Linked DNA regions of Homo sapiens. The protein of the gene in region 1 purifies or fractionates together with the protein of each later gene. This does not show direct contact. Each region holds a gene or a part of one and is shown on either strand. Other genes may lie near its edges. The genes, in order: MLNR, ITPRIP, BTAF1, CDYL, XPO4, CDC42BPA and ACAD10.

Region 1 (4,037 bases):
AGGTCCAGAATCGAGACTCCAGAGAAGAGGTTGAGGATTTAAGCCACTGAGGGGGTGGAGCTGGGCAGTGAGTAGGACGTCAGGCTTGCAAGCTCTGGGATTAGGCCGACCAGAGCCCATATCCCAGTCCCGCCTCTTACTGCCTGCTTGATCTCAAGCAAGACCGCTTTGTTCATGGGCGAAAGGAGCGCCCCGGGCCATGAGGATTAAATGGAGAGCACAGGGCCAGATCCATCTAAATTCTCAGTAAGTGTTAGCTATTGTTATTAAGACCACACCGAACAGACTGAACATCCGTTTTAGCCCCTTTCCCCAATTTTCGTTCTTTCCGGTGTTGACAAATCCTCTAGTTTTTTAAGTTTATAAAACATGTTGTACATAAGAATGACATATCACATGTGAAAGTACTCTAGTGTCCACGTAAATATTTGTCTTGTTCTTTATAATAAGTAAACATGCTCACGGATCCTTGAAATTATCTGGTCACTGCCGGGCGCGGTGGCTCACGCCTGTAATCCCAGCACTTTGGGAGGTCGAGGCGGGTGGACCACCTGGGGTCAGGAGTTCGAGACCAGGCTGGCCAACATGGCGAAACCCTGACTACACAAAAAACACAAAATTTAGCCGGGGCTTGGGCGCTCCTGTGCTCCCAGCTACTCAGGAGGCTGAGGTGGGAGGACTGCTTGAGCCTGGGAGGTCGAGGCTGCAGTGAGCTGTGATCGCGCCACTTAAACTCCAGCCTGGACGACAGTGAGACCCTGTCTCAAGAAGAAAAAAAGAAAGAAAGAAAGAAAAAAAGAAAAAAAAGAAATTATTTGGTCAATTATATGGTCAGCTCCCTCCACCACTCGCGAATTTACAGAAGAGGAGAACTGGGCTGGGCGAGACCAGGACTAGCCCAAGATTACACAAGTTACTCGGTTGTAGAGCCAGGATTAGACAGGAGAGGCTCTAGATTCTGGTCTAGACTCCCCTCCTATTATTTAGCATTATGGCTTCCTGAGGATTACCATGAGCCCTCCTCCACCGTCAAGCGGCAGCTACCAGCCACCAGACCAGATCCCTTCGAAGGTGCCCGGAGTACCAGACTGACAAAAGCGCCCGTACAGTGCTCAGTCCTGTAACCAAAGCTGTCTAGGGTGCAGACATCGCTCACCGGACCGGGTAGGGCTCGTGCGCTAAGGGCGCCGGGTATTCCAGTTAGTGGAGAGGGAAGCGCCCTGGAACTGCATGGGCCCGGGAGAGGGCGCGGGAGCGGAGCAGGGCCGGGCCGGGGCGGGCCGCGGCCGTGGGCGGAGACTGCGCGCAGCTAGCTCGGGAGCGCCTCGGAGCCCACCCCGCAGAGCCGCTTCTCGCGCCCCGCAGCGCAGCGCAGCGCTCCGCCGTCTGACCTGCCGCGCCCGCAGCGTGCGGGCTGGGAAAGGAGGCGCTCACCGAGAGGGACCACGCGCCAGGCTCCCAGCCCGACCCGGGACGCGGCGGCCGCGCGGAGCACCCATGGGCAGCCCCTGGAACGGCAGCGACGGCCCCGAGGGGGCGCGGGAGCCGCCGTGGCCCGCGCTGCCGCCTTGCGACGAGCGCCGCTGCTCGCCCTTTCCCCTGGGGGCGCTGGTGCCGGTGACCGCTGTGTGCCTGTGCCTGTTCGTCGTCGGGGTGAGCGGCAACGTGGTGACCGTGATGCTGATCGGGCGCTACCGGGACATGCGGACCACCACCAACTTGTACCTGGGCAGCATGGCCGTGTCCGACCTACTCATCCTGCTCGGGCTGCCGTTCGACCTGTACCGCCTCTGGCGCTCGCGGCCCTGGGTGTTCGGGCCGCTGCTCTGCCGCCTGTCCCTCTACGTGGGCGAGGGCTGCACCTACGCCACGCTGCTGCACATGACCGCGCTCAGCGTCGAGCGCTACCTGGCCATCTGCCGCCCGCTCCGCGCCCGCGTCTTGGTCACCCGGCGCCGCGTCCGCGCGCTCATCGCTGTGCTCTGGGCCGTGGCGCTGCTCTCTGCCGGTCCCTTCTTGTTCCTGGTGGGCGTCGAGCAGGACCCCGGCATCTCCGTAGTCCCGGGCCTCAATGGCACCGCGCGGATCGCCTCCTCGCCTCTCGCCTCGTCGCCGCCTCTCTGGCTCTCGCGGGCGCCACCGCCGTCCCCGCCGTCGGGGCCCGAGACCGCGGAGGCCGCGGCGCTGTTCAGCCGCGAATGCCGGCCGAGCCCCGCGCAGCTGGGCGCGCTGCGTGTCATGCTGTGGGTCACCACCGCCTACTTCTTCCTGCCCTTTCTGTGCCTCAGCATCCTCTACGGGCTCATCGGGCGGGAGCTGTGGAGCAGCCGGCGGCCGCTGCGAGGCCCGGCCGCCTCGGGGCGGGAGAGAGGCCACCGGCAGACCGTCCGCGTCCTGCGTAAGTGGAGCCGCCGTGGTTCCAAAGACGCCTGCCTGCAGTCCGCCCCGCCGGGGACCGCGCAAACGCTGGGTCCCCTTCCCCTGCTCGCCCAGCTCTGGGCGCCGCTTCCAGCTCCCTTTCCTATTTCGATTCCAGCCTCCACCCGCCGGTACTTCCCATCCCCCGAGAAAACCATGTCCTGTCCCCCAGGAGCTCTGGGGGACCCCAGGGCGCTTTGAGGGTGGGATCCCCGGATCCGATTCAGTAACCAGCAGTGCTTTTCCAGAGCCTCTGAGACCAGAAAGGAGAGTTGGTAATTCTTAATCCAACCACCTGTTAGATGCCACAGATGAGGAGTCCTCACAGTGCTCTTGAGAAGACGAGGGAGATTTCATTAAGCTAAAATTTTTTATTTAATGTTAAGTGATGCTGAAGGCTAAAGTAAACCTTGCTCGTATCAAAAAGTAAAGATTGTGCAGACCTGTTGTAGAATTCTTTTCAACAGAGAACAGAAAACTTGTCTCCGAAGTGGGTTTGTGGAAGGAAGCCTGCCAAGGCGGCTTGTTCAGAGAAATTGCTCCTTCTGGTTTATGTCCAGCCTTGATAACACATATGGGAGCCTACTATGCAGTTTTAAAGCAAGTATCCATGCAGCCTGCAGCCTGGTCATTTTTTCTGGGGTGAGGATCTGCCTAGGTAGAAGTTTTCTCTAATTTATTTTGCTGTTACTTGTTATTGCAGATGGTTCCTTGTCGGGGTGGGGGGTTTATTTGCTTCCCAATGCTTTTGTTAATCCCGGTGCTGTGTCTTATGTTGCAGTGGTGGTGGTTCTGGCATTTATAATTTGCTGGTTGCCCTTCCACGTTGGCAGAATCATTTACATAAACACGGAAGATTCGCGGATGATGTACTTCTCTCAGTACTTTAACATCGTCGCTCTGCAACTTTTCTATCTGAGCGCATCTATCAACCCAATCCTCTACAACCTCATTTCAAAGAAGTACAGAGCGGCGGCCTTTAAACTGCTGCTCGCAAGGAAGTCCAGGCCGAGAGGCTTCCACAGAAGCAGGGACACTGCGGGGGAAGTTGCAGGGGACACTGGAGGAGACACGGTGGGCTACACCGAGACAAGCGCTAACGTGAAGACGATGGGATAACCAGCACGGCCAAGCCAGGCTCCTCTTGCAGTTCTAAGACTTTGGGGAAAACAGGTGTGTAGAGAAATAAAGACTGCAAATGAGGAACAGATCCTGTTAAGAAGAATGGAAAGAGGGTTGCAGTTGTGCCAGTTGGTTAAGAAATAGACCGCATGATTTATTTAACCAAGGTATGAAATGTAACTGCGCCAACCTTTCTAGTTTCCTTCCCACGTACCTCCTAAGGAAGGTCGATTTTACCATCATGAAATCCCACATCTCAAAGTGTGCTCTTGTGTGATGGTTTCATGAAGTCCTCATTCTCCTACTCTTCGGAAAGATGATTGTTCATTTTACAGTTAAATGATACACAAAGATGCTGCCCCAAAACTGCCACCTCTGAGATCATGAGTGTATTTTATGTTTTGGATGTAAATGTAACAGTACATCTACAAGGAACCAGGATAATGATAGTTTTGATCCAAGAAATGATTTAATACCTATGTATGGCTGCAAAAACT
Region 2 (2,633 bases), on another chromosome or scaffold:
GTGTTGTTTATAACAGCAAAAAGTGGAGACAACTTAAGTGTTCCTCAGTAGGGAAAGTTGGGTAAATTATGGTACATGCATACAGACAGTGAGATAGTAAGCAGCCATATATATATATATATATATATATATTTTTTTTTTTTTTTTTTGAGACAGGGTCTTACTCACTCTGTCACCCAGGCTGGAGTGCAGTGGAGTGATCACGGCTCGCTGCAGCCTCTGCCTCCCAGGCACAAGCAATCCTCCCACCCCAGCCTCCGGAGTAGCTGGGATTAGAGGTACACGCCACCATGTCTGGCTAATTTATATATTTTTTGTAGAGACAAGGTTTGCCATGTTGCCCAGGCTGGTCTCAAACTCCTGGGCTCAAGCGATTTTCCTGCCTTGGCCTCCCAAAGTGCTGGGATTATAGGTGTGAGCTAATGTACTCGGCCAGTAAGCAGCTAGTTTAAAGAATAAGGTAGAGCCAAATGTTCAAAAAGATAACCAAGAAGAATTAGTCGGTATGATGCCATTTATGTAAAAAAGGACTAAAAGGATGCATATATATATACATACATGTGACACATACACAGAAAAATTTTGGAAGGATACACCAAAAACTTCATATTGGTTATCTCTGGGGAGTGGACTAAGAAGTCAGAAGTGGGACCGTTAGTCTGTTACTTAATTTTCCTGTTAGTACTTGAATTTTAAAATTATGACTGTATTATTGCTTTTATGTTTATTTTTTAAACAACAAACTAGTTAAACAAGCAAGCTATTTTTGGATGGCAATGAGAAAAGTTAACTCTAAAAGATGCCCTTCCCAGGGACAGGGGTGGGGCAAGGCAGAGTGGGGCGGAGAGGGAGGGCCCTGTTGAAGGCACACATTGCCCTTCACTCTGTGACTCTTGGCTCCCTCTGCTTTCGGTCGCTGGCCAAACCAAACAGCCTTCCAGCTCTGTCCCGTGAGGTGGAGATGAGACGGACCACGAAAATGTTCTGAATCACAGCCTTGGGGTGGCTTGAGTTAAGACTTCCTGGACATTCACCAACCACTGCCAGCTGCCACCAACCCTGCTCGGGAAGCCGGCCATGTACCCTACAGCACAGGACATGGATGGCACTGATCACATAGATAAGGACTCCTTAGTTTGGGGGTGAATCAAGTTACTGTCTCACTCAAAACCCGCCAATGGCCCACCTCTGCTTGTTGTGAGGTCCAAATTTACCTTGTATTAGCATTCAAGGCTTTGCATGGTTCAGCCCCACTCTTATCTTTTCAACCTCATTTGCTACGACTTCTCAGTATATGCCAACATGTACACCAGGACTGCCTGGGTTGGAATCTGGGCTGTGCTACTTACCACTGTGACAGTAGGTAAGTCAGTTGCCCCTTCAGTGCCTGTTTCCTTATCTGGAAAGCAGGGAGGATAAGAATAGCACCTACATCATAGGACTGACATGGAACTGTGTGCATTAACAAATGTGTGTGCGGAACGGTGCCTGCCATACAGTAGGTGCTTCCCACCCTCACTCCATGCTTCTGGCTGGAATGTCTTTCCTGGCCACAGTCCTGGTCATTTTTCAGAGTCTCTATCTGGCAGCGCCCCACCATGAGGCCTTCCCTAATCAGCCCAGGTACCAGTGGTTCTTGGACATCCAGAATCAGGTGGGGAACTTGGTGAAGTGCAGATTCTTCTACCTAACTTCTCAGGATCCCACTGGAGTCTGTGACACGGCCCAGGAAGCTGCCCCCAGGTGACACCCGTATGTGTAGTGCAGGGTCACACTTGGAATAGCTCAGTACTTGGAAGGCCACCTTCTGCTGCCTCTCCTAGGGAACAGGCTTGGTCCTATTCATTTTCCCATCTTCCACAATGTCTCATGCACGTTAGGCTCCTGACAAATGCTTGTGGACTATTCATGACCTGCTTGGGAGAAGGGCTCACCATCTTATGCCTTCCCACCCTCTCTCTGAGGCTTACGGCACTAGCGTGAATGTGGGTGCCCTCATGAGAAGCTTGTGGTGTAGCTGATGCCACTTAGACCACAGATTCCAAGCAGGCTCATTGGCTTTTCCCAGGTCTATCTATCTTCCAATAGATCTGTAGGGAAAGTAGTCCACTTGGGTTTTCTTTAACTTTCCATTAAGAAAGAAAGTGAGAGGGCTTCCTCAGCTAGGGGTACCATCAGTCACTTGGGGGAAATCTTTAAAAATCGAGCCTAGCCTGACCACTCCAGACTGGATTCTGAGCACCATGTAGGTTCAAGGCGGGGTCGGGGCAATGGACCAGGTTGTCTGGGTGATTCGGATGACACCCTTGATGATGAACCAGAGCTCCACCCCCAGGTTCTCAACGGGGGCTGTGCTTCAGCCAGGCATGCAGAGGGGCTAGAGCTTTTGAGGATATAAGGCCCTTCCCCAACATAACCAGCCTCTTGGCCTAGGGGCCAACTCTATTCATTTCACCCTTGTTATTTTGCAAAGCAAGTGAGCAGTTGCTGGGGAAAGTCAAGCATCCTTGGGAAAGAGACTCTGGGGAAAGAGGGCAGGGTTGTCCTTAGTGGAAAGGCCAAAGTCCCCTAGAGGACTCAAAATCCTCTATTTAAAATACAATCTCTTTCTTTAAAACCCAAAAGCTTCCTGT
Region 3 (3,500 bases), on another chromosome or scaffold:
GAACAAGTGTTTAAAATATTATTTCCTCATCATACACAATTTAATCCATATAAATCAAGGTTCCATCTTTCTACACCAAAATACCACACCTGAAGGTCACCAATGAACTCTTAGGCTCCAAATCCAATAGTTTTTTACAAGGTCAATTTTTCTTGACTCTTCTTTGACAGCTGCGACCAGCAAGCACCCCATTCTTACAATACTTTCCTTCCTAAGTTGCACATTATATTACCCTGTTCTCCAAACTCTTCTTTCCTTAGTTCTCCTATTCTTAATACTCTTAATATGAATATCGGGAGAATACTCATATTCAATCCTTGACTGCTCAACTCTCATCAGTTTCTCCCTGAGGAAACTGTATACTGTTATTTGTTTAAATTATATCCAGAACAAATATTCCCCAAATCCAGGCCATCTGAGAGTGCCAGTTTCACACTCCCAACTGCCTTGTCATCCTGTTGCCAGATTAACTTCCTAAAACGCCCCCGAATAAATCACTACCTTACTTTAAAACTTTCAATGGCTCACACTTACCTACCAGAAAGTAATCCAAAACAAAAAGTATCTCCCAAATGTGGGTATTTTTGGTTTCCACAATTTTACCTATACTGTTTCCTCCACTCAGAATGTCTCTCACACCCCTTCAAGCTAGGGTTACAGTGGCTCACCCCTCCTCAAGGGGGTGGTTTCCTGGCCAGTTTCTGCCAGATCCCCAGAATGGTCACTGGTTGGGGTTGCAGTGGGTATGTACTCTGCCTCACTGCAACAGCAGGCAGCTGTGCAGATATAATGGCCCCATGTGTGAGACTGGGAACTGTTGGTGGGAGGCACAGCTGAGAATATGGGTATATCACCTGGAATTTAACCAGATACACCACTAGAGGTGATCTTCGGGTGTGCCTGAGCTTGCTTCTCTAACAAGAGAATAAAATGTGCTACAGCAAACAAATAAAGTATTTTTCTCTTTGTTCAACTGTTCAGCTAGCTCCCATCCAACAGGATTCAGCTGAAGTTCTTCACCTTCTTGAAACCATTTCAAACTACTATGCAACAGAGATTACTTCCTTTTCTGAAATCCACATGAATTCTCATCTTGAACAGCTACTTAAGTATTTATTATATTTTTTTGTGGCATCTCTCACATTAATTTGTCACATGAGGTCTAATTTTCCTCATTAGGCTTCATCTCCTTCAATCATTCTTTTTGTCTCGCACAACACTTTGCACAGTATTCAAATATTTGTTATGTAGTTGACATTTACTGTAACTAAAACTATACTTAAGGAAAAGTTCAAGTTTCTTGGGGACAAGTTTAAGAACCAACTTTAAGGAAAGAAAAAATATTTTATATTACCTTTTTTTTTCCTGCTTCCTTTGAGAAACATCCTTAATCTGTGACAGCAGTTTTACATAAAAAATCAGTTGGTAATGTAATGTTTCAGTAACTGAAAAGATCAGCACAGCAGTACTTCAGCCTTCTGAATGAGGCAGTTACGCTTGTCCCAAATAGCAAGCTGAAAAATGCCATGCAATAGGCACTGTATTCCTTCAATAATTTCCATCCTTCTTAAACTTTTCCTTTGGTCCTCTGCTACCCAGCTTCACTTAGAACTCCTGCCCAAAGACCTTAGACTCCTCTCTAACCTAATTGCTGATACTGTCCCACAGACACACAGTTCCTCTTGATTCTCCTTTTTGCAGATCCTTTTATCCCAATGCTATGTCAGGTCACCTCTGCTCTCCCACCAGCCAAATGCCCTGAGGGTAGCAGATCAGCTCATTCTCTCATCCATTCCAAGCCTGTTTATCCTTACTTCTTCCACTTTGGATGGTAACCAAAATTGCCTCCCTGAATAGAGGAATGGAGACACAAGAATGCTTCTTTGATTCTCTTGATTTAAAGCCACTTTCGTAGTTCTCCATTCCTCTCTTCAGGACAGCAGATTGGACACCACATAAAAGGAAGAACAAAGAGATGAGCAGACAAAGATCTGACAAGAGGGCAGTCTGACCTGTTATCTCAGGATAGCCAGCTATGAGGCAAGCAGGGTAAGCATCAGGGCCAGGCCACGGTGGAAAAGGCTGGTACAGTGAACTTGTGGGGAAGAGGAAAAGAACGTGAGACAGAGTCAGTATTATGTTGGAGGGTAGACAGGGCCCTTGGTGAGGGAGAGGTCTGAAGGAAGCTAGATGGTCAGAAGAGAAGGGAAAGTTAAAAGGAGGGCTGACTGAGGGAACACAGTACTTACTCCCATACTACTTTTGGCTAAAACTTCTGTTGCACACAGCTAGCAGGAAAAAGTAACATTCTTCATTCTCTGAAGGATAGACAGACAGATGGAGGAGACACAGGTAACAGATGTCAAGTTGCATGGAAGGTACCAAAGACTATAGAAGATAAGTAAAACATAAGAAAATTATATTTTGTAATATCCACTGGTTATAAATTTATTGAGAATAAGAAATCTGGCCCATTTTCAATCTGGATGTCAATTCCGAGAATTAGCTAAACAAGATATGATTCATGTAACCTGTGATTTCAGGCAACTGTTCTAAAGACTGCCTAGAAAAAGGAAAGAGTACATAGTAGTAGAGGTTATGCTAGCAGTTGCAATCTAACCCCTCTCCTCTCCAGATGTTTGCATTATGTTAATTCATAACAGTAAAGCCATAAAAATAAACAGAAAGAAATGTCATGCATTTTAAACAATAAAACATGTCCTAGATTACTACGTCATAGTTAATAAACAAATACATACTGTATTTCCACTCTAAAACATCTCGGGAGGGGAGGGGCAAAAAGCCTCACTGATATTTTCAAAATATATTTAACCTCTCTGATAAATTAGGAAAGGTCAACTGACAGAATACCTCAAAAAGACAGCTTTGTGGCCTTAACTAAAAAAGCATGACCAGTCAAGAGTAGCCATTTAGTTATACATTTTTTACACGTGGCAAAAGTACAGTAAAATTTTAAATATAGATGATTTGAATGTTTACTTTTCTGTGTTACTCAGGAAGTAAGGAAAGATAATGACCATTACTTAGTATAGTGTACAGTGTGTACTTAATACGTGGAACTTAGTACAGTGCACATATTATCATTAAGGTCAAAAGAAACAACTTCCAACAAATTCTCTAGTGTTTTTAAACATATACTTTCTAGGTCATGTTGTGGGTAATTTGAAACTATGTTAATGTTATGTTGTTTTAAACATAAAGATATCACACAGAACACTAAGAATCAATATGAAGGTGTGAAACCATACCAAAGCCAGGTGTAAGGGCAGGTGCTTGCTAGATAAGTTACCCCACTCTACCCTGGACCATAAACTCCATGAGAATGGAGAGTACAGTTTTTTTCTCTGCTATACCTCTAGCACCTATAACATAGAAAGCACTCAGTAAATATTGGTTAAATGAAGAATGGTGAAAATGTACAACCAAGCTATGCTATTTCCTTCAAGACATTTTTTTCTACCCTCCATCCCTGATCGAAC
Region 4 (3,500 bases), on another chromosome or scaffold:
CGTGTGTATATATACACACACATACACATGTGTGTATATACACATATACACACACACACACACACACACGACTTTTGTGGACAAAAAAGGGGGCTCACAGATCTATGGCCTCCTAAGAGCAGAGATCAGGTATCCTCTCTGTAAAGAGCCAAGTAGGTCAGATGCAGTGGCTCACGCCTGTAATCCAGCATTTTGGGAGGCCAAGGCAGGTGGATCACTTGAGGTCAGGAGTTTGAGACCAGCCTGGCCAACGTGGTGAAACCCTGTCTCTACTAAAAATACAAAAATTAGCCGGGATTGGTGGTGGAAGTAAATGAATGGATAGCTCCATTCATTCATAGTAATGGATGGTTAGCTGTGTTCCAAGAAAACTTTATGTGTGAACACAGAAATCTTAATTTCTTATATTTTCACGTTAGTAAATATTCCTCCCGATTTTTTTCTTTTTCCAAAATCAGGAAATGTAAAATCCATTCTGAGCTTGCAGGTCATACAAAACCAGGAGCAGGGCAGGGCCAAGCCCACGGACTATAGCTCATCAGTCCTTTTTGGTAGCACTACAGTCCAGCACCGTGCCTGGCCCCCAAGTCATCAATGAAGACGGAGGTGCTTATCTGTCCAGGAGGCAACAAGCAATGCTGGGAAGAACGCCAGGGAGGCACTAAGGCACGCGCTCTGGTTCCCCTTCTGGCTTCGGTTCTCTCCATGAACATCATCTTCTCTCTGGACTCGACTTCCCTAACTGCAAAATAGAGCGTGCTATTAAGTGAGTCCCTTCTACCTCTGAACTTCTCTGATCCCTCACATACAACTAAGTAAGAGAAAACTGTATCCATGAGGTCAAACAATATAGGAAGTCAAACCTGCAAACAAGTTCACAAGCTCCAATGAAGCCGGAAAAGGCACCGTTTGGGTCAAGTGTGTATCTGAAAAACATTGGCAAGATGGCAATTTCCTGTCAAAGGGAGACCCCAGATTTCAGTTCATATTCCACTTTTTTGCTACACAAGGGCCTGGGCCGAGGAGAAAACCTGTTGAATGCACCAAAGCAGGACGGTTAGAATGTCTTAGTGAACACTTCGCTTTAGAGGAAAGTAGCTCCCCAAACAAACCAACACCATTGTATTTTGTTTGCTATTATTCTACTGAGCTTGGGTTGGAGGAGACACACACAGGTAAAGAGACGGAGTCTCTTTTTTTTTTTTTTTTGGGAGACGGAGTCTCACTCTGTCACCCTGGCTGGAGTGCAATGGCACCATCTCGGCTCACTGCAACCTCTGCTTCCTGGGTTCAAGCGATTCTTGTGCCTCACCCTCCTGAGCAGCCGGGATTACAGGTGCGCGCCACCGCGCCTGGCTAATTTTTGTATTTTTAGTAGAGACGGGGTTTCACCATGTTGGCCAGGCTGGTCTCGAACTCCTGACCTCAAGCGATCTGCCCTCCTCGGCCTCCCAAAGTGTTGAGACTACAGGCATGAGCCACCACGCCCGGCTAAAGAGACAATTTTAAGACTACAACTCAGAAGGGAGAGAGAGGAGAGGGCCAGGTGGTGGGGGCCCCTGAGCAGATGGAGAGGAAGGGACCACGTGCGGCCCTGGTGCTGACAGAGAGAGCGAGCCAGAGGGCAGCGGAGCGCCAGGTCGCAGACACACAGGGCACACCTGCTACTGAAGGCAATGGGGTGGGGGCACCAGTGGACACCACCCTCGTCCAAGAATGACTGAAAAGGGATGGGAGCTGTCAGAAGGCAGGAAGCAGGAAGCCCTATTAGAAAGCTCCAGCAGGTGAGAAGTCATGAGGCCTCGTAAGAGAAAACTGTGGCCGGCACAGTGTGGCAAGTGAGGAGAAGGAAGCCACCCATGTGAACTCCCAGTTGTGCTGTCCTGGGAGATGGACAGGTCATGGCACAACCAAGGCAGCTGCAGAACCCAGGAGCGGGGCTGGGGATGAGAGTAAAACAGAGGACACCACCGGTGCCAGGCAGACTGGGCTCTGACGGGGGAAGCAATGGCACCTGCACTGCCGATCACAACAGAGAAACGAGCCCGGCTCCCAAAGGCTCTGCTGGGTTAGCAACGCTCCCACTGAAAGGCATTCCTGGGTATTCACACAGATGAGCAAAATAAGAACCTGCACTTCTGTATCAATGCTGGCCACACTTAGAAGAAAACGCTTAACACGAGACAAGACTCAGCACTTCAGAGGTGAAGAAAGGTAGACAGCTTCAGAAACTTGCTGTAAAAACTTATCACCTAATAACCTAGTTAGAGGGAGATACTGTTTAAAGCAAGTCAGTGTGGTAGCACAGTCTGTGGATGGCGAATTACACAGAAAAAACTAGTTGCCGAATTAAGAGAAATATCAAAGGCTTCCAGCGAAGAAAGGAGAAGGCGAAATCTCTGCAAGGCTCCAGCAGATGCCGTGAGAAGCCCCGGACTCTGCCCAGCTCAAGGCCTGATCTCTAGAGAAGGACCCGAGCCCTCTGGGATCACCACGGAGCCTGAGCAGCTCCCTAGACACTCACCTTTCCCGTTAACAGCTAAGCCTGTGGCCATGGCTGCAGTCACAGGGCCGGGCACCTGAGGCACTAGTGGGTGTATCCTGGGCCTGCTCCCCATCCTGGCCCTCTCGGCACCGGGGCCCAATAAAGCTCCGACCGGCTTTTCCGCTGCCACTTCGGGTGCCACTGTGTCCTCCTGACCCTGCTCGACGGGGTCCAGTTTCTCAGGGCTCTCGCTCTGAAAGCCGTCCACTGCGGTCCTGCTCTTAACGGGGCTTTTAGGCACGAGGATCTTGATACCTGACTTCGCTAGGTCCATGTTCTTCCGGCTGGAGAGAGATGGAGCTGTGTTCTTCCTGAACTTCTGGCTGGCAGCAAACAGCTGGCTGTTTTTGGATTCGTGGTCTTTCCCAATCACGAGTGCCTTAGGAGAGGTCTTAGAAAAGTTGCTGTTGGTGGATCTGGAGATTTGTTTCCTAGCATTGTTGGGAGAGGTCCTGTTTGTTCTGGTCAATGTGCTCTCCTTCTGCTTCTCCGTGTGGCGTCTGTTGAAGTCGTGGATGTATTCCTCACAGTTCACGAGGTGCTGTTCCGGCTCCCAAGTGTCGTCCTCGCTGTCATAGCCTTTCCACCGAACCAAATACTCTGTCTTCCCTTTTTTATTTTTCCTTTTGTCAACAATCCTTTCAACCTGTTCATAAAAGGAAAAAAATAGTTTTAAAAAAATCAAAATTTGGGGGGAAAAGTGCAAGTTTCATTAGGAAACATCAAAAATAGCAAAAACCACAATAGATGATAAAATGATCTCTTCTGCAACCTCAATAAAATAGTAATAGGCCATTTGGGTTGTGGACAATTTCCCTGAAAGTAAGTCAAACAAGATGCTAAATTTTTATGCTGAGAACGTGTGGATATGCATTAGGTGACTTATGTTTCTTGTGACTGAAAGGGGCTCTCTGCTATTTCTGTGTTGAAGCCTGACCACCGAGTTGGTTTCCAC
Region 5 (3,500 bases), about 28 Mb from region 1:
TTCCCCTTTCTATATCAGTTATATTGAACTAGGGGCCCACCCTATTCCGGTATGACCTCATCTGAACTAATTACATCTATGACAACCCTATTTTCTTTTTTTTTGAGACGGAGTCTTGCTCTGTCACTCAGGCTGGAGTGCAGTGGTGTGATCTTGGCTCACTGCAACCTCCACCTCCTGGGTCAAGCGACTCTCCTGTCTCAGCCTCCTAAGTAGGTGGGATTACAGGTGCGCACCACCATGCCTGGCTAATTTTTGTATTTTTAGTAGAGACGGGGTTTTGCCATGTTGGCCAGGCTGGTCTCCTGACCTCAAGTGATCCGCCCACCTCAGCCTTCCAAAACGTTGGGATTACAGGTGTGAGCCACTGCATCCGGCCAACTCTATTATCAAATAAGTTCATATCCTGGGGTTTGGATTTCCACATATGAGTTTTTGAGGAACACAGTTTGACCCATAACAACAACCATGGGCACATTATTTAATAGGCTTTAAATCAAGGGCCAAGAGTTGCCAGTGTGTGTAGGTTGCCAGCCTGCAGTCCTTGTCTAGAGGGCCCTTAGTGTTTGAGAAGGGGCACAGTAATGGAATTAGGCAGTTGTTTGTGACTTCAAATCCAGGGGAAACCAGACTGACTAAGTATTTTTATTTTAAACAATTGTATTATCATATGGACAACTTAAAGTCGAATTAAGATACTGTCCTCTTGAATATGAGTACTCTTATATACAGGGCAGGACTGATTATCTGAAGTTACGTTCTGTGCCAAGAGGAATTAGGTAAAGGAAAAAGGAAAAAAACAGACAAGAACTTTGAATTGGGCTTCACTCTGTAGAGGTCGGCAAGCTGCAGCCCATGGGCCAAATGTGGCTTACTGTCTGATTTTGTAAACAAAGTTTTTTTTCCTTTTTGACTCATTACTTGGAAAGAGATGGAGGGAAATGGCAGAATTCTTTGAATGGCAGGGAGACAGTTATGTCCCATGCTTTGGGTGTTCTGGCTTTACATGAGCGGAAAGTTAGGATGACCCTCAAAATGGGGAGTGTAAAGTCTGGTTTAGATATTCTTTGTTATGTGCTTGTCCTGCCTCCAACAATTAGAAATGTTTTGGAAAGTGAATATGTATCCAAGCAGAGGAAATAAAGCATGAGAACTGAGCTTTAAGAAAATTCCTGGTTTATTTTTATAGGTTCTTCAGCCACTTCAGCAGCGATTCTTAAGAGTGATAAACCAAGAAAACTTCCAGCAGATGTGTCAGCAAGAGGAAGTCAAGCAGGAAATCACTGCCACACTAGAGGCCCTGTGTGGCATTGCTGAGGCTACCCAGATTGACAACGTAGCAATCCTGTTTAATTTTTTAATGGACTTCCTTACCAATTGCATTGGATTGATGGAAGTTTACAAGAATACCCCAGAGACTGTCAATCTCATTATAGAAGTTTTTGTTGAAGTTGCACATAAACAGATATGCTATCTTGGAGAGGTAAGCACTTTCTAATTTTATCCCCTCAGGATTAAAACTCTTTGAAGCTGTAATAAAATAATAGATCTTTGCTTAAAATTTGATTAGTATTATCTTAAATAATATTTTTATTCCTTCAAAAGATTTTTAAAAAAGATTTTTGAAAAGAACTTATAATTTAGAGAAAGTCATGTTGAATGAATGTAAATTTTTTTTTTAATTTCTTCTAAAAGGAAACAGGATACATATACAGAACGTTCAGATTTGTTACATAGGTATATGTATGCCATGGTGGTTTGCTGCACCTGAATATAAATTCTTGTCCTAAAATTTTGTTAGAAAAGGGGTAAAATTAAAAAAAATATACTCTTAATATATGCTTTCTAGAAATTATTGTTTTAATGTAGTTTAAAGCAAGAATTATTGCTACTGTTGGAATTCGGAGTTAATTTATATAGATTATATTTTAAAATTTTTTTAATGTCAGTGTACCAAGTAGCATAATTTGTGCATTTTTTTTTTTTTCAGTCCAAAGCTATGAACTTATATGAAGCCTGCCTTACTTTGTTGCAAGTGTATTCTAAGAATAATTTAGGGCGGCAAAGAATAGATGTTACAGCAGAAGAAGAGCAATACCAAGACCTGCTTCTCATTATGGAACTTCTTACTAACCTGCTGTCAAAAGAATTCATAGATTTCAGTGATACAGGTAAAATGTAACGTGATGGTTTTTAAACTTTGTTGTTATCCTCCTTTTTATTAAATCAAAGGATTGTTTTCTGTAAGAGACATCTCATGAGGAAATTCAATTTATGGAATAAATGAAAGAAGATCTTTGTGGTCAAAGTGAGGGTGAGGACCAGTGGCCCTCCTGCTTGCCTTTCCTCTTGTAAGAATAATAGAAATAGTATCTCTCATTCATTGAGATCTTACTAAATGCCATGCACTGTTCTTACCTCTCACAATGGTATGAAGTCAATCCCATTGTTATTCTCACTTTATAGATGAGGAAACAGAAGCACAGAGAGCTTAAGTCACTTGGCCACAGATACTTAGCCAGGACTGGGATTCAAATCCCAGCCTGTGACTCCAGATGCCAGTCTCTTCAGAGTTACACTTCCTGACTAATCACTTCTCCATGTTCCTCACGGTGGCCACCCCAGAAACCCTAGCACTTTCCAGAGTGTGGCTTGGAAAGCCCTGTTGGTGTAGGAAGCACTCTCTCTGGAGTTAACAGCCCACACTTTGAAGACCTAGCCTAGTGTCTCACCTACAGTATGATGTGAGGGGAGTTGATTAGCCTACCTGTGTCTTTACTAGCTGGTCAAATGGGTATGATAATAAATACCTTTCAGTGTGTTTGAAGGATCAGCTGTAAAGTGTCTTTGGTGCCTAGCATTGTGTCTGACAATCAGTAGGTAAAAGATAGTTGCTGTTACAGGCAAGAACCTGATCAGTAATTTAAACCTCATATATGTGTATAGTTTTCAGTGCTGTAGAGTTCACTCCCCTCCTATCTCACTGCCAACCTTGACTTCAAACAAAATGGATCCTGTTTCATGACAGAAAAATGAATCATATCTAGCCTCTCCTATTATATGTTGTGCAGACACGTGTGGTAGTGGACATTTTTGGCTTCTTCCTTGTAAGATTCTCTTTCTAAGTTGGGTGCTATAATATCCACTTGACTTATTTATCCCAATCCTTGAGATTGTTCTGTTTCCTTAATTTTTTCGTATTCCTTATTCACTGGACCATGTCTTTTTTTTTTTTTTTTAAATTCTTGGGCAACGGTTTTTCCAATATCTGCCCTGAGCTAGGTACCATCAACTTCACAGTGTAGAAGGTTTACTCTTTATTTTTTTTGCAGTTAACTAGGGGTACCAAGGTGAGATAGTCTGAAAAGCACTGTACAAATTCACTTTTCCTCAGTGAATTCTTTCTGGTCTGTTTTTAGGCCCAGCCTTTCACCCAAGTTTTCTAACTTTCTTCAGGTCAGTTCTGCTTAATCCAGGAGTTCTTAACTTTTTCTTTCTTT
Region 6 (4,128 bases), on another chromosome or scaffold:
ACCGGAAGTATTCTCCGAATAACTACTTAGCTGCCACCAGTTCAGGAGTTCCTTTAACCCCACCCCTGGACCTTCCCTGTATGTTCTTAGATGAACCATTCTAACTCCAGAAAAGCAGTAACAGTCCGTCTTGTTTAAGTGACACAAAATCAAACTGCTCCCACATTCACACTGTCAGGGCCACTCAGGAAACCTCACGCAGCCAGGGTTTGGTCTTGTGGACCGAAGTAACAGCAACAGCGAAGTTCTGGCCAGAAGAGGGGAGTTGAAAGCTTCAGGAGAATTGAACATCATTCTTACCCGAGCTAAGGAAGAAATTAAGAAAGTCCTAGATTAAACCACAGGGGCAAACTAACCCCATGTCCTTTTACGGCATAAAGAAGCAGCCTGGATGAGGAAGGAGGCCAGCAGAAAGAAGAGAAGTGACAGGCGGAGAGGTGGCACCTTTCTCTATTTCTCAGACTTTCAAGTGGGGGGAAAAGAGACAAAATACTCAATGCTAACAGTTCTCTGTTTTATTGCAATACAGCAAAGTCTGGTTAATATTAAGTGATATCAACATAAAGTATTGGTGAGGAGTCTTTTGTGACATTTTTTACCATCCCACCTTAAATATTTCTGTGCAAAAGAATCCACATCATTGTTTGGTAGCAGAGGATCTCTTAAAAAGTTCCCTAAGACACTGAGGGCATAAAACCAAACAAAATAAAATAAGGAGTGATAGGCTAAAGCAGTATCTTCCCCTCCATCCACATTTGTCAGCATTATATTCTAACCAAAAAATGATCACACCAGGCCATGCAAAACTGTACAATATTACGAGAAAAACCCTAAAAAATTTATAAAATGAATGATATTACACTATCAAATAAAAAGACAAGTCATTTTGTTTTCATGAGATTTCAAGGTTGATTTGAGTCAGCTTCCCCCGGAACTGCACGGTGTCCTGTGTGGGGAGGGCCCAGCGTGCTGCCAGTGCTGGGGGGCAGGGCTTACACTCCTTATCTAGCAGAAGTGCACAGAGAACTCTGGACTTGAGTAACAAAGTCATAAGGAAAGAGATTTTAAAATGGGCTCCATGAAATGCAGCTCATCTAGTTCAGGGCTGGGCCAGAGAGACGGGGGAGTGGAGTGCCCAATTCATTCCCTGTTGTGCTCACCAGACATGGGCTACGGCAAAGTCTGCTCTGAGCGCCCCTCTGTCTAGATTGGATGGGGAGCCTTAGGCTTGGCAAGGCCTACCTGCTGGGAGACTGCAGTGGTTGTGATCCCGGCCAAAGGCGGCAAATGGCCCTGCTGCGTCTGTGGTTTTGACCTCTGCTCACCCCTGCTCTGGCTTTTCCTTAATGATACCTGAGATGCCACATAAATGTAACCAGTCTTTCTCAGAAATAGACGTGGCCACTAAGTAACAAAATGACATAATTCTAACCTATGGAAGGAGAGAGAGGCTGAGAGCTAGCCAGGAATGATAGATTGTTGCTGTAAACATGACAGGAATTTCAGATTCTCCCCTGAAATGTGAGTACAATAATTGGCTGGAAAACCAAATAGATGGGCTCCTTTTAGTTGTATCTCATAGCCTTAAAGCTGTGCTCCCTAGGAAATAACAGAAATCACTAAGTGTGTTGGGGATGTGTATAAATACATACATAATAACAAAAAATGTAAGATCTACTTTAGCAATCATTTGACAAGAAGCAAGACTTTTGTTTTTGGCAAAAAGAATATATATGTATGTAATTTTAAATACCCAAAGCACAAACATGATTAGTCAGAATTTGAGGGTAGATAACTTGGCTGGACATAGATAGCACCAAATACTAACACAGATAGACTATCCCAGAAATGCCTCTGAATGTATTTTTTCTATTGAGAAACAGGTTTCTGCTGCCATATACGTTTTTAAAATGTCCTGCATGAAAACAAAAGAAAACTTCAGATAGTAATAAAATACTTTATCTGTGAGCTGTGCTACTGACTCCTCTGAATGGTCATTATGTTTTCTTTGCCTAGAACCCACTCCCTGTCTTTTCACATCATTCTTCTCAGAAGCTTCTGGAGGTAACAGGCTTCATATTTAAGGGTGGGATAAACCCAGTAGGATGACCGTTATTTTGGGAAAACCCTCCCCAAAACTATTCCCCCTGGCAGTGTTTCTCTCCTAAAGCCCTGCTTTTAGAATCTGCACGCATTCGGGACTGCTCTATTATGACTGATGAGATTACTTGCCATTGCAGTGGAAAAATCAAAGAGTGCCATGGTGCAATCCATGGGGTGAATATGGACAAGTCGCCCAGTTAGCCTGGCAACCTAGACAAGCCTCAGTAGCTCTCTCTCTCTGCCCTGTTGGGAGGCTGAAGAGTATGACCCATAGCAGTGGAGCTAGACTTTAGGTAGGGTTATTATTTTGATCTTAAAAGCATCCTTTGCAAAATAAGCACCTATAAGCAACAAAAATTCATAATTACTTGTCAAAGCTACAAACTAATGGCTTATGTCAAGTCCTGTTAATCTCGGCTTGGGATGGCCTCCTCCCTGCCTGAGAAGAGAAGGGAGAGAGGAGAAGGCAAGGGGAAAGGGAAGAGGAGGATGGGGAGGGTGGGGATGGGGAGGGTGGGAAGAGTGAGGAGGAGAGGAGGGGAGGGTGGGGAGAGTGAGGAGGGTGGGGAGAGTGAGGAGGGTGGGGAGAGTGGGGAGGAGAGGAGAGAAGGGTGGACAGAAGGGGTGCGAGCTGGTCACGAGCACCAAGCAGGGGGCCGGCTGGCTGACTCCCTTCTCTCACGTGAGGTGCTGAGGACAAGGATCTACCAAGTCATATGACAATGATCCAACTAAAGGGCCAACCCTTGGTATTCAGGTGAGAAAAGTATTTTTATACTTCATTCTAAAAAGCAGAAAGATTTGGGAGATTAGAACTGTGCTGTGAATTACACCCATCCAAAATAAAATATAATCAAATCTGAGCTGGCACCAAACTCAGAATGTTTAAATGTCAAAGCTGTTACATGAAAATTCCCGATTATAGGTGCTTACAATGGAATCCCCAGCAGGATCCTTTCTTCCCTCACTGCATCTCAGAACCTTCTCCACACAGCAGCATCACCTGGAAACAGCCTCAGCTCCCTGCACATGCCGCAGGCCAGCATGGTGGCCACCTCAGTGACACGCAGGTCACCTCAGTGACACAGACGTGGAGTCACAGACAGCAGCAGTGAAATGATGGCCTTAAACACTGCAACTCAGGTTAGCAACTGCAGGAAAACTTTCTTCATTTTCACTGAATTTTAAAGAGAGAATCCTGTCTCTATTTCTCAGAGAAACTTAGGTGAAAAGTAAAAGAGAGGCAAAATCTCTTTCCTTCATGAGATACTTTTATTTTTATCTCTTTCTCTACTCATGTGCTTAACTGGTGAAATGATTCTGTAGAAATAGATCCTTCTGATTCTGCATCTCATTTCCTTATGGCAACTACAACAGGAGGAATCCAGCTGGAAATGCCACTAACCCCACAATCCAGCACCTGAGAGAGGAAGCCAGTCGGAGCGCCGTGCTGGGCTCACTCACTCTGGCCTGCGCACTGGGGTTGTCACATCCATTTTCCACTGGCTATGGGGAATAATATTTGGTTAAGGCTGTTGAAGCCCTTGCTTTTGAGGTTTTACATTATTTGGTAATGAAAGCCGTTTTTTCTTCCTTCCCCAGGCTTATGTGAAGAAGCCCACGCCCACTCTCAACAAAACAGACTCCTCCTTGGGAAGCATCTCCAGCCCTGGGACAGACACCTCGCTGTGACTTAGGGAGGGACAGGATTAGCCCAGGAATAAAAGCATTTTTAGAAATTGTTTTCTGCACCTTCAGAAGCTACAACACTCCTTGTAACCTTTCAGATGGAAGGGATCAGAGGTGACAGAATCGTGTATTTCTACATTTATCTGCGGAAGATAAAATACAATAAAAAGTGAGAAGTGTTCAAATTCCACCACTAGGAAAAGAAACATCTTGGGTAGAGATGAGTTCGCCTTTTGCTGCTGCTGCTGAAGTGGCTTCAAATGTTAAAGCTCTGGTGCCCAGGGCATGCCCCAAACCAGCAAAACCTGGCTCTGCAAGTGTTTTCTACAGCTCCCC
Region 7 (3,500 bases), on another chromosome or scaffold:
TAATTCTAGTGTATATATATATATACTTTTTTTTTTTTTGAGACAGAGTCTTGCTCTGTCTCCCAAGCTGCAGCGCAATGGTATGATCTCAGCTCACTGCAACCTCTGTTTCCCGGGTTCAAGTGGTTCTCCCTGCTCAGCCTCCAGAGTAGCTGCAATTTCAGGTGCCCATCACCATGCCCCGCTTATTTTTGAATTTTTAGTAGAGATTGGATTTTGCCATGTTGGCCAGGCTGGTCTCAAACTCATGACCTCAAGTGATCCGCCCATCTCGTCCTCCCAAAGTGCTGAGATTAAAGGCATGAGCCACCGCACCTGGCCAATTCTAGTATATTCTTATCAAATGACCCTTGATATGGTTCATTTGAAATAAATAACATTAGAAGCTCCAGTCAAGCAAAAGACAAAGTAGAAGGCATCACTATTTTGTTCACATTTACCCATCAAACATTTCCTGAATGACTGAGCCAGCCTGCAGAGCTAACACTGCAACAGTGAAGTGAAGAAATCCCAGACCTGGGGTCCTGGAATCCAAGAGCCCCATAGAGGAGACATGAACATATCCCACTGCAAACAAAAATATCTCGGTGAAGGTGAAACTTAATGGGAATTGGCTATCCAGGAACATTCTGCCCAGGTTGCAAATGAGGTTGGAGAAGTCTTGACAGAAGAGGACTCTTGAAGTTAGTAACAACCATGAGATTTACTGAGTGTTCAAAAGATTCCAGTCATTGCTGAATAATATCCCCTTAAATTTGCCATTAAAAGCATCAGTAGGATTTGAACAGGCAGAGGAGGCAGGGAGGAAACACAGCTTGCAAAGGCACAAACATGCAAATGTGCCTGGCATGCCTGGGGAGCATCAGGTAGTCCATAGCAGGAAAGCTAAAACTGAGAGGAGCCCTGAATCCCAGGTGAAAGCTTCTAGACTTAATCTAGGGGACCACATGCAGGCATTCAAGATTTTCAAGCCAGGGATGAAAGGAACAAGATCTATGCTTTATTTTTATTTTATTTATTATTTTGTGACAGGGTCTCACTTTGTCACCCAGGCTGGAGTGCAGTGGTGCAATCTCAGCTCACTGCAGCCTCAATCGCCCAGGCTAAAGAGTTCCTCCCACCGCAGCCCCTCAAGTAGCTGGGACTACATCCATGCACCACCATGCCCAGGTACGCTTTTTGTATTTTTCGTAGAGACAAGGTTTCACCAGGTTGGCCAGGCTGGTCTTGAACTCCTGTGCTCAAGCGATCTGCCCACCTCGGCCTCCTAAATTGCTGAGATTACAGGTGTGAGCTGCTAAGCGCAGAAGCACGATCCATGTTTTAGAAAGGTTAATTCTGGAGCTGGGAGGAGATTTTGTAAAATCCAGAGAGCCAGAGGCAGAGGAAGTTAGGAGGCTGATGACATCATTTGGGTGAGAGAAGGCAAGGGTGGAGGCAGTGGCAATGGAGAGAAGTGAATTGGTTCTTAAGATATTCTAGAGAAAGTCAAGAAACTTTCTGTCCAGTGATCTTTATGTTCTTCCCTGCTGCCTTTTTTTTTAGAGACAGGTTCTCTAAAAAAGACTGTTGTGCCAGTCTGGGGTGCAGTGGTGCAATCCTAGCTCACCATAGGGTCTCACTGTGTTGCTCAGGTTTAGTCTTTATGTTCTTTGTAGAAGAACAGATTCAGCTATCTGCAGAGCAAGAATATTTGGGGGTGGTAAGGAGCAGGGGGAGTGGACAGTCTGGAACAGCCCCTGAGGTAAACATGACAGAGATACGAGTGAAGGAACAGAGAGATAAGAGTGAAGGAACAGAGAGGCTCAGGCGTAGCACCAATGGCCCAACTGAGGCTGGAGCTCAGAAACCAGCTTGTGCAGCCAGTTAGCACGGCTGAGTAATTTGGTCAGCAGTGCTGGAAAGCCTAGACACGCAGGCATAGAAAACCTGTGCCTGGGTTGATTTAGGATGGAGAACTGGCCAACCAGCCACCACAGAAGGTCAAAAGGAGAGGGATGGCTGCCTGGCCCTTTGTCCTTCCTGCTGGCTGGCATGAGAATATGATAGCAGGAGGCGACACAGCCAAGACAGACCACAATGTAAGAGTGGAAATGAAAAGTCACAGCAGAGCAACATGCTATAAAGAGTCGGAGTCCCTGATACCACAGAGTCGCATCACACAGTGCCCCAGACCACATACCTGGGCTTTTATGTGCAAGAGAAAGAAACTTCTAGCTTGTTTCAGTCACTGTTTTGTTAGGTTTTCTACTGCTTGAAGCCAAAACGACTTTAACTAATAAAAACTGAACTGAGTAGAAAAGAAGTAAAACCAGGAAGGGGCTGGTAAAGAGAAGACCAGAGACCAGAGGGCTGACCCTTACCCTGTCAGTCCAGAAGCAGGTTTAGAGGGAGTGGGGTAGAAGGGAGGAAGGCTGTAATCAAAAGGGGAATTTCAGCATTCTAGATTTCAGAAGTAGAACAGTTCCCAAGAAGAAGTGGTTAAATTCTTTGGGATTTTTGGTTGTTTGTTTTTGAGTAAGGGTCTTGCTCTGTTACCCAGGCTGGAGTGCAGTGGCATGATCACGGCTGACTACAGCCTCAACCACCTGGATTCATGTGATCCTCCGACCTCAGCCTCCTGAGTAGCTAGAACTACAGGTGCCTGTCATCATGCCCAGATAATTTTTAAATTTCTGCAGATACGGGGTCTCACTATGTTGCTCAGGCTGGTCTTGAACTCCTGGGCTCAAACGACCCTCTCACCTCGGCCTCCAAAAGTGCTGGGATTACAGGCTTCAGCCACTGTGCCCTGCCTTGGTGGTTAAATTCTAATCACAGCATTCATGGCAGCTCATCATTGATTGAGAATTTAGGATGCACTGAGCAATCACTGTGCTAAGCAAGTGCTTCCCACGGATAACTCTCCGCCAAATCCCAAGGAGGAAGGCACTACCATTAGCTCATTTAATGATGAGGAAAGTAAGATTTGGAGAAGCTGAATCATGCGCCCAAGACACTCAGCCCCCTAGTGGTGCTTGGAATTCGACTCGAGAGCCAGAGCATGGCCTGCTGGGACACACTGCTGCCCAAGTGTTCCCCTCTGCCTTCCCGATCACCCTCCATTCTCCCACCACCACTCTAGTCCCACAAAGTGAAACAGAATCAATAGCTCACCTGCAGCGACTCTCCCTGGAGAAGGAATGAGAACTCCGCCCATGTCGAAAATCACCGCTCTGTAGGTGCTGCCTCCAAGGTGTGTCCATCGGTGGGACCCCTGGTGCCTGCGCTGGGTGTGTTTCAGGAAGGCTGTTCTCCACACCCACTGGAGACGGGGGGACTGGAAACAGCTCCTGACACACATGGTGAGGCTGAGGCTGTGTGGGAAGAAGGCACAGGGCGTTACTTGCCTGCACTGCCTCCCAACCAGGCCTCCATCCTGGAGCTCAGAGGGGCCAGCCAGACATCTCTAACCCATCTCCAACAGGCACTTCGAATCACACCCACAACTGACCTCAGTG

What was found.
Region 2: the proteins of MLNR (region 1) and ITPRIP purify together in Homo sapiens (affinity purification with mass spectrometry; one large-scale study listed by BioGRID and IntAct). This does not show direct contact.
Region 3: the proteins of MLNR (region 1) and BTAF1 purify together in Homo sapiens (affinity purification with mass spectrometry; one large-scale study listed by BioGRID and IntAct). This does not show direct contact.
Region 4: the proteins of MLNR (region 1) and CDYL purify together in Homo sapiens (affinity purification with mass spectrometry; one large-scale study listed by BioGRID and IntAct). This does not show direct contact.
Region 5: the proteins of MLNR (region 1) and XPO4 purify together in Homo sapiens (affinity purification with mass spectrometry; one large-scale study listed by BioGRID and IntAct). This does not show direct contact.
Region 6: the proteins of MLNR (region 1) and CDC42BPA purify together in Homo sapiens (affinity purification with mass spectrometry; one large-scale study listed by BioGRID and IntAct). This does not show direct contact.
Region 7: the proteins of MLNR (region 1) and ACAD10 purify together in Homo sapiens (affinity purification with mass spectrometry; one large-scale study listed by BioGRID and IntAct). This does not show direct contact.

The regions. Positions count from the first base shown.
Region 1 is NC_000013.11:49,218,841-49,222,877, forward strand, and holds MLNR (motilin receptor), read left to right. Parts: upstream 1-1,497; coding exon 1,498-2,398; intron 2,399-3,199; coding exon 3,200-3,537; downstream 3,538-4,037. UniProt on the Homo sapiens protein: Receptor for motilin.
Region 2 is NC_000010.11:104,309,200-104,311,832, forward strand, and holds the end of ITPRIP (inositol 1,4,5-trisphosphate receptor-interacting protein precursor), read right to left. Parts: 3' UTR 501-2,633; downstream 1-500. UniProt on the Homo sapiens protein: Enhances Ca(2+)-mediated inhibition of inositol 1,4,5-triphosphate receptor (ITPR) Ca(2+) release.
Region 3 is NC_000010.11:91,930,270-91,933,769, reverse strand, and holds part of BTAF1 (TATA-binding protein-associated factor 172), read right to left. Parts: intron 2,389-3,500; exon of another isoform or gene 2,250-2,388; intron 1-2,249. UniProt on the Homo sapiens protein: Regulates transcription in association with TATA binding protein (TBP). Removes TBP from the TATA box in an ATP-dependent manner.
Region 4 is NC_000006.12:4,891,404-4,894,903, reverse strand, and holds part of CDYL (chromodomain Y-like protein), read right to left. Parts: intron 3,192-3,500; coding exon 2,525-3,191; intron 2,519-2,524; exon of another isoform or gene 1-2,518.
Region 5 is NC_000013.11:20,794,747-20,798,246, reverse strand, and holds part of XPO4 (exportin-4), read left to right. Parts: intron 1-1,189; coding exon 1,190-1,483; intron 1,484-1,990; coding exon 1,991-2,171; intron 2,172-3,500. UniProt on the Homo sapiens protein: Mediates the nuclear export of proteins (cargos), such as EIF5A, SMAD3 and isoform M2 of PKM (PKM2). In the nucleus binds cooperatively to its cargo and to the GTPase Ran in its active GTP-bound form.
Region 6 is NC_000001.11:226,989,365-226,993,492, forward strand, and holds the end of CDC42BPA (serine/threonine-protein kinase MRCK alpha), read right to left. Parts: 3' UTR 501-4,128; downstream 1-500. UniProt on the Homo sapiens protein: Serine/threonine-protein kinase which is an important downstream effector of CDC42 and plays a role in the regulation of cytoskeleton reorganization and cell migration. Regulates actin cytoskeletal reorganization via phosphorylation of PPP1R12C and MYL9/MLC2.
Region 7 is NC_000012.12:111,692,553-111,696,052, reverse strand, and holds part of ACAD10 (acyl-CoA dehydrogenase family member 10), read right to left. Parts: intron 3,357-3,500; 5' UTR 3,344-3,356; coding exon 3,157-3,343; intron 1-3,156.